Regions from separate parts of the Homo sapiens genome. Here region 1 is linked to region 2. Evidence: fine-mapped expression QTL. A gene starts in region 2. The other region holds a variant in brackets. All regions are shown on one strand. Distances are between the middles of the regions.

Region 1 (4,376 bases), 21 kb before region 2:
AAAAAAAAAAAAAAAGACAAGTAGTACAGTATTAAGATGCTATAATAAATAAATCAGTTTCCAAAATGGAAGTTCTGAAAATTTACGATGTAGAACCATTCCTCAGCTGAAGCTCAGGCAGACCTGGGTTCTAGTATTAGCTGTTGGATTAGCTTTGTACCTTAGGATGACAAACTTAGTGCCTCAACTTTTCATCTTTAGTATTAGGTTTGGTTCAAATATCTAAGGTCTGTTCCTAGTCTGATTTGATTCTTCATATTGAAACTGACACCAATGAAACTGTACTTGAAAAGCATACCTTTCATTTGATAATCAAAAGTCAGCTCTTCTCCAGCATTTATGGTTCTTGTGGAAAACAATGCTATTCGGGGAAGACGAGTATCGAGGTTATCAATGAAAACATTGAACACCTGAAGATTTGGGTCACACTAAAAAGGAACATTAGAACCCATTTAAGTACAAACGGTGTAAACAAGCCCTTCTACATGCCATATAAAATGTTTACTTTCCTAGAGATTTAGTTTAAGTTCCACTGGAAATTAAGTTGCTTATTGCTTAGAGGTCTTTGAGGCATGCACATTTAAAAAGATTTTTTTCCCTTATAAAAACTTCAGACAAGTATAAAATAGAGAAAATAAGAAATCCCTATGTATCCACTATACAGCTTCAACAATTAGTAACATGCTTGCCAATCTTATTCCTCTAGTCCCAACTTTTTTTTTTCCTGGAGAATTTCAATACAAATCCCAGATAACATTATTATTTCACTGGTAACTATTTCAGTAAGGCATACACTTTAAAATAACTAGAACAACTGTGTTTAAAAAATCAAATCTGCACTACAGAACTCAAATTTTACACTGCATGGAGTTTCACTGCTTGAATTTTTGGTCCAAACTCTTCAATGTTTTGAGAATACTACAGTAAACTTACGGAATATGCAAGAAAAAAGATGTAGTGAGTCATACTAAGGAATCAAAACTGTTTGATGGCCCTGGATAGAATATCTCTATTTTGAGAGTATCTCGAATTTATCATTAAGAAAAAAATTCTTCAATGTTTAATCAACAAACAAGGGCCCAGAAGCTCTCTGCTAATCATACACCAATTTCTTACTATGAAATCCATCAGAAGTTTAACATGGTCTACTTCCTTTATATGTTCAGCTATATAACTTTGTGGCACACACTGTCCTTATTATCCACAAAATGCAGATAATGTCACCCTAACAAGCCTAATGTTTTACTGTCCACTTGCTACTTAGTAGGTAACCCAAAATTATTAACTTCCCTAATTTTTGGAAATTATTTAGAGTCCAGAATTCTGCAGTTAAGTGCCAGCTGTATTCTAAGAGCTTTCAGACATTAAAAGGTAAGGAAGAATACTAATTTATAATTTAGAAAAATAGCCCTACATAAATACTCTACAAATCTTTAAATTTTATAAAAAGTTAACATGTTTACATTTTAAGAAAATACATTTACCTTCAGTTGTACATCCTAAAATGTAGTCGTGTTAACTTCCATTAAGATACAGTTCTGTGTAATTCTTGGACATTTTACCTCTTAATTGCTCTGCTCATTGTAATATGAAAGTAATACCTACCGTACAAAGTTACTAGAAAGTTTAAATGAAGTAACATATGTAAAGACTCTTGTAAAATACACCCTATTAATATTTGGTAGGCACCTCAATGTTTAATTTTCCTAATACAGCAATAATACCATAACTTAACAGAAGCTGCCCTCCTTATAAAATACATATTTTGGAAATGTTAAAAGGATATGTAGTTTAAAGGGAATTATTCTTTAGCTATGGAAACTAGTACTAGGTTGAATTGTTAGTCGTGTCTAAAATTTACGTATGTCTTCTTACGCTGTGATTCACAAAATGAGACACATTGCC[G/A]TATCGAGCCGCATCCACTGTGAATTCATCAGACTCATAGTCCAGATCAAAGAGATACGTGATTCCCTTGTTGTCATAGAACTGTCCTCGTCTTTCAGCTTCTTCACTTGTGATTACCTAAACAGAAAAAACTGTAAGTATATTACGTAGCTACTGAACCAAAGAAGCATTCATCTACCTATCTACTAATATGCGAATACCTACAAATATTTAAAAAGTAAGAAATTCAGGTGTCATCAAAGCAAACATTCACACAAACTAAGACTCAGATGCAAAGAGGTGGGAAAATGAGGGGAAGAAAAATGATAATGCAAAAGACTGATGACCTTTTTTTTTTAAACAGGGTCTCACTCTGTCACTCAGGCTAGAATGCGGTGGTGCCATCATGACTCCCTGTATCCTTTAACTCCTGGGATCAAGCGATCTTCCTGCCTCAGCCTCCTGACTAGCTGGATCACAGGTGCATACCGCCATGCCCAGCTAATGATTTAGTTTTTATAGAGATGTGGGGTCTCACTATGTTGCCCACACTGGTCTGGAACTCCTGGGCTCAAGTGAGCCTCCAGCCTTGACCTCCCCAAGTGCTGGGATTAACTGTAACTGGTTGATTTATGACTTTTTAAACAGGATTTGAGCAGTACATTGGAACACTGCATTACTTTCATTATAATTAGGATGTTCAAAAAGCTATACAACTATAGCTCTCTACAGGACACAACTGAATGTTAAGGACTAAATCTGCAAGTATATGCTCTAAATATGATCCAGGCACATTTTTCCTATAACTTATATATATGCAGTTACAAATGGAAAATTGTTAAAAATACAGGGGAGAAGCTATGTTAACTTTGGAATGGAAGGTTTTGTTTTTGTAGAATATGTTATTTTCATGCAATTCTGTAAGTCTAAGATCGTCATCTACAGTTCTGCTCTTAAGAACACAAGTTTTATGACACGCTCGGCTTAAGAAACCAAAAGTGTCTAAAGTACTTTATGTTACCAACCAAATTTGGCTGCTGCACTCATTAAGAATGCAACTTAAAAAATTTTGGTTAACAAAAAGAGTAATTTGATTATACAAGATCTTGTATACTGAATAATTTATAATAATCTACCACTGTCTAAAAGTGTAAGAATCAAAACAGCCATCTAATTTAGTTTCAGAATTATAGATGAATACAGATAATTATAGGTGACCCAATTCCAACTAAAAAATCCAGAGTTGACAACTCCAGATATGTAGCCATGCTTGTGTCTTTCTAGTCACAGCTCAACCTACCCTTCAGTTTGAAGCAGTGTGGTGCCATGGTGAAGACTACTGATTTTAGAGCTTTGAATCTCGGTTCTTATTACTATGTGACCTGTGTGACCTTGGGCAAGGTACTCAATTTCTCTACAATAATGGACATAACAGTACTACTTCTCAAAAAAAAAAAAAAAAAAAAAAAAAAAAGAAACAGTACTACCTCACTGAGTTTTGGAGAGGATTAGTGAATTAATACATCAAGTGCTTAGAATAGTATGTGACACACGGCAAATACTTTTTACATTTATATATATATATACATATATATGATTTGTATACAAATAAATTTGCTAGTATTTGTATGGTAGTTTTGAGAATGGTCTTCACAGTTCAAAAGTAAGTTACAGATTATGGATGCAATAAATGCTTGTGTATATTTTACAAAACTCATAAATATAGTATCTTTCATGTTGATCCAAAATAGAGTTCTGCCAACTACATTTAATCATATTTGGTCAAATAGATGAAGTAAATTAAAACTTTCAAGTTTCAAAGCAGCATGTGTTACATCTGAGTTTCTTCTTAGGACTTTTGGGTAAAAACAGTTGTCATATTTTAAATTTTACAAATCCTAGGTTTGACTAGTAGGAATGTGTATTTGTTGAAAGATGACTATATCAATTTGTTTTAACGTATATTTTTTATTCATATAAAAGTTTTTTATTTCTAAATATGCCAGTGAACTCTTCTCCTAAATCTGAATAAATTTCTACATATCTGCAAATGAAAATATCAAAATGTACCAAGTATCTCTTAAAGAGATAAAAAGGTAATTTTCCAAAAGTATAAACCTTGCATGTCCATCATTTACTACGTGGCAAATGAAACATACCTCTCCAACATATTCCATGACAAAACTCATTCTTTTAATCTTCACAAGGGTCTTTACACCCCAGCCACGTCCATTGCTAGTTCGAAAGATGCAAAGCGAATACTGTGTGCCTTTTTGTACAATCCTATTGGGACAATCAGGACCACACTGACACCTTGAGTTGCATTCATAGATGGGAGTACCAGGTGGGATTTTAATTTGTTGGTTTTTATTATAAGCCAAAAGAACTCCAGCTTCAGCAGGACAACATTTTTGAAAGAAGCAATCTGTGCATGAACAACCAAAGGTAGCTTCATTGACTAAGCTGATTCCAGGAGCTGGTTTGTATTCGTT
Region 2 (4,394 bases):
TGTTGTTAGGGCTAGTGTCATGGTAAGCACTTGACAAAATCAAAAGTCCTCTGCACTACCCATCGCTCGGTCACCGAGCTATGTGACTTTAGTGAGGTCTCAATCTTTTTGGCTGTCAGATTCACTGGAAAAAAATGGAGAAAACTGGTGTTACCAAACAAAATCTATCAGTAAACTCAAGCTTTACTTGGTAGCTCTCCAAGGTAGTTGCGATCACCTTTTGCGTTTTGAGGTAATTTCAGGGAAGGGAGAACACTTGTTAGTGGCAATAACTTTTCCGGCCCCTTTCCTCATCCTCCCCACCTCACACAGAAACTTCATTGTCAGAAACCCTTAAGCATAATTTCTACCATCTCACTGGCTGCAAACGATTCCATCCTAAAGCAGTAAAGACAAAGGTATTTTCCTCCAGAAAACGTGGGGGAAGAGGCTGATTGGCTTTGTAGTGGTCGTTTGGGGGTAGGACAGTGATGGGAAAGAAATGACCCCCTAAGTCCCTTCCATCTACAAAAACTAGAGAACGTTTTGTGTTAAGCTGACCTCATTAAGGGAATCACGTATAAAGGAGGTTCCTCTTATCTACTCAAGGTGTGTTTGTGTGCTTTTCCTAAACATTTTTATCTAGTTGAGGATTCAAAACACAACCCGCAAAGGAAATGCTCTTTGAAAATTAAAAAAAAAAAAAAAGTGAACATGAAAAACTGCAAACACGTGGTTAAAAAAAGAAAGACAATCTCTCGACAGTCTCCAGTAATGCAGAAAAAGATTTCACTGACAAAATTAAATAGTTCATGACCACCACAAACACCTTCCGCTGGTTCACAGTAACCCCTGACATTCTCCAAGGAGAAAAATTCAGGGATAATGAGGTCATAATCCCAGCGGAGAGGAGACGAGCTTGAAAACACCTTTACATTCCGGAACGCACGGAAAAGTTCCAGGCTCTCAAAGCGTGCGCGACACCAACACCCCCCGACGCCCACACCCACGCGCGCTCGGTGCCCAGTTCCCCGGTGCCCAATTCCCCAGCGTCCACAGAAATAACACCAAGCTCCCGGTGGGTGAAAGAGTTACCGTAAGCCAGAGGCTGCAACCTCAAATACCCACTTTCTGGGCGATTCTCCAACGAGGCACTCAACCTCCTAGCGTGTCCGCCTTGGGGGGGATTCCTCGCTTATCCCCTTTCTTAGCACACAGGCGCCCCGATTTACTCTCCCCCTCTGATATTAAGGTCATGTTCACGCCGGCGGGCGTCGCTTCCCGCCTCCCACTTCAAAGGCCCGGGCGCATGCCGCACGCCGCGCTCGAACCACCACAAAGGAGCCAGTCGCAGCCGTGCCCCCCGGACCTCCAACCGGGGACTGCCGGGGAGCGGCCTCGAAGCCCGAGGCCGCCACGGGAGACGCGGAGGGGGCCGGGCCGAGCGGGCGGAGAGGCCACGCTCCACTTCCGAAGTGCCCCAGGCTCGGACAGTGCCCACCTCCGCGGCGGGAGCCGGCCGGGCAGGGAGGCGGGTCAGCGGCCTGGGGGAGGATAGGCGTCCGCAGCGTGCGTCCCGGAGTTGGGGTCGCGGCGGGCGGGGAACCGCCACGTCGCCATCTGGCTGGCCCGCGGGACGGCCCCGCCGCCCGGGCCTTGGGAGCTTGCCTGGGAACAGGGAAGGCGAGGGGGCCGCGCTCCAGCCTCACCTCCTCGCGCCTCGGCCCCGACCGCCGCCATCTTGTAGAGCTTTCATTCAAACTGGCGCGGTCTGACGGGATAGCTCAGCTGGCCCGACGCCCCGCCCCTGGCCGGCCCGCGCGGGACTTGGGGGCCGGGGCTTGTTGGGGGACGGAACCCGCACGGCGTCCTGACGTCACTGGCGGCCGACCCCCCGCCGCGGCGGCCAGCGCGCCTGCGCCCCAAAGCTAGGCCCGGCCCCAAGCGCGAGGAGCGGGGCGGGGCGAGCGCGCGTGCTCCCGGATCCTCGGCAGTGTCCGGCGCCCCCTTCCCTTCGCCAGGCCCGTTTGGCGCCTTCACTCGGGAAGACGTCGGCCAGGACTTTGCGCTTTGGAGACGTCTTACTTCGGCAGCACTCGCACACTGCGAGATCCGACACGGGCAGCGGGGACCTAGGGAGCCGGGGACGCTGCCTGTCGGGTACGGTTCCGCAGCTACCGCAGCCCCGTGGGCCATGGTTAGTCTCCCCCCGACACCGCTCCCTCTAGAGCTCCGGGCTTCGGAAGCGGCTGCACGTGGGCATGGCTGGAGAGGTTCCGCTGGCTTGGGGCAGTCGCCGGGATTCCGACTGGTTGGTGTGGGGTGTGGCCTGTGCTATCCAGCTCCCAGCTGATCCTAATGTGCGGCACAGCGGAAACCACCGGTCCACATCAGTGCTTCTCACTTAAAGGGGCTTACGAATCGTCGGGGGTGGGGGAGCTGGACTTGGAATTTTTTAAGAGATGAGGTCTCACTCTGTCACCCAGGCTGGAGTGCAGTGGCGCGATTACGGCTCACTGCAGACTAGACCTCCTGGGCTCAACTTTAATGTAAATTGGGATTGGGTAGGTCTGTAAGGGGACCCGAGCTCCCCTCCCATGTTGTTGCCAAGCTCCTGAGCTCGGCCTGGTGGCGGGTGGGGGCCGGGAGGAGAAGGACACGTTAGTAAGGAAGCTGCAGGACGACTCCAGGGGCCTCCCACCTGGTCTCCACCCCCCTCCCCCACCCATTCTTGACGCTGCATCCATGATTGTTCTAAACAACCTAAAGCAGAAATCTTAGAGCAAATAACGAAAACTGGCAGAAGGCCATTTGATATCTCCTTAAAAAATTCATGTAAAAAATTACATAAACGTTTCAAAGCAGTATGTATAAATTTGAAATACTGGAAATGAACGCAGACCATTAAAGGAATAGTTAATTATTTGATTCCATTATGAAATACTGTCTAGCCGTCTTAAAAAGGTGTTCATGAAGCTTTTAGTATTCAGCAAAACCAAAACAAATCCCCCTGAAATATAGTTTTAACTATGGAAGAAAAAAATGTATAGGAAAATAACGAAATAGCCTTTTCGGAGTGATTTTCTTTTTAACTTCTCGTTTTTAAATATTTAATCATTTTCTACGATGGGAAACACCACTTCCTCACACACACTCATGCTCCCAGACTTTATTTAGCTACAAACGGCATCATAATACAAATACTGTTCTGCAGTCCGTGTGTGTTTCAATGCAACTGCATTTCTCAGACATGTTTCTAAGATTTGAGTCCTTAGTAAATTTTGTATTCCATATCTCATTACCTTGAGATAAGGAATAAAAGGCCCTGTCCAACCCTGTCACCTGGAAGAGCATCCAGGCCCTTTAAGGCTTAGTCTATCTAGGATTATGCCTTCAGACTTGGATACAGCCTCCCGTCCTAACCGGCCCCTGTATTCATTACCTCTCCTGTATGTTTTCAGAGCCCACCAAGGAGCGGCCATCGCTACTCACTGGCCACTCTTGAATCCTTTTTGGCTCCTTTTCCTCAGTCCAACCTGGGTTCCTCAGAGAAGAGACTGTAGTCCTGGGACTGCATTTCTTTTCCGCCCTCTCCCTATGTGACTGCCCCAATTCCCATGGATTTAAATAGCATCTTGACACACAAGATGCCTCACTTATCGTCTCCGGCCCTGGCCTCTGCCTGAATTCCAGGCTAGAATATCCACAGTGCGTAATGGACATATGCCCTTAGGTGTTGCACAAACATCTCAAATTGAACATATCCGGAAAAATACACTTCTGAACTTCGTAGCATTCAGAATAAAACTCAAACCTCCAGATGGCCGGCAGGGCCTCCAGTGATGGGAATCCTGTCTCACCTCACTTGGTGCCACTCTCCCCTTTACTCATTTTCCTGGCCTTTCCCCGGCCCCACTTACCCAGAAATCTTTTACTGTGCATCTCCTATGTGCCAGGCACCTGATAGGTGCTGGGAATATAGCAGTGGATGAGAAAGAAAAAAGACCCAGTCCTCATGGAGCTGACTTCCTAGTGACAGGAGCAGCGGATAAAGCAAATCACTGAAGGCAGCTGGAAATTACTTTCCGGTTAAGAGGACAGGCTCCTTCCCCTCCTCACATGGCTACCTTCAGATCACTTGGGTCTCAGCTTAAACACCACCTATTGACAGAGGCCTCGCATGTTACCTCATTCTTTAGCCCTACTTTGCATCCTTAAAAAGCACTCATCAAAATTTGCAATTATCTTGTCGGGTTTTTGTTCTTTGGTCTTGATTCATAATGAATGCATCGCACTATTTTGTAAATCCAGTGTTTCGTTTCGTGTCTTGAATCCCATCCATTCCAGCGCATAGATGAGGCCCTGTCTGTTCAACATTCATCACCGTGTTTACTATCTAGAGCAGCAATTCTCAA

Direction of the effects. Positions count from the first base shown, and alleles are read on the strand shown. Sizes are in standard deviations (SD) of each study's normalised expression.
For the expression in thyroid of the gene that starts at base 1,742 in region 2, allele A in region 1 goes with a lower level than allele G (small effect, 0.28 SD a copy in GTEx).

What was found. PIP is the estimated chance that this variant, and not a neighbour inherited with it, causes the effect.
Region 1: its variant is the best candidate, but not a certain one, in a credible set for the expression of SUV39H2 in thyroid (GTEx, PIP 0.53).

The regions. Positions count from the first base shown.
Region 1 is chr10:14,897,185-14,901,560 of GRCh38, reverse strand. It overlaps SUV39H2 (SUV39H2 histone lysine methyltransferase), which reads right to left. Exons shown (of 6, transcript NM_001193424.2): 3 at 4,044-4,376; 4 at 1,876-2,022; 5 at 299-428. It also overlaps a transcript of DCLRE1C not described here. Among named protein-coding and RNA genes, the nearest start is that of SUV39H2, 21 kb to the right of the region's middle. The variant G/A (reference allele first, on the strand shown) is at 1,906.
Region 2 is chr10:14,876,214-14,880,607 of GRCh38, reverse strand. It overlaps SUV39H2 (SUV39H2 histone lysine methyltransferase), which reads right to left and starts at 1,742. Exons shown (of 6, transcript NM_001193424.2): 1 at 1,689-1,742. The coding sequence starts at 1,719. It overlaps SUV39H2-DT (SUV39H2 divergent transcript), which reads left to right and starts at 1,949. Exons shown (of 1, transcript NR_186426.1): 1 at 1,949-4,285. RefSeq lists a silencer at 1,269-2,008.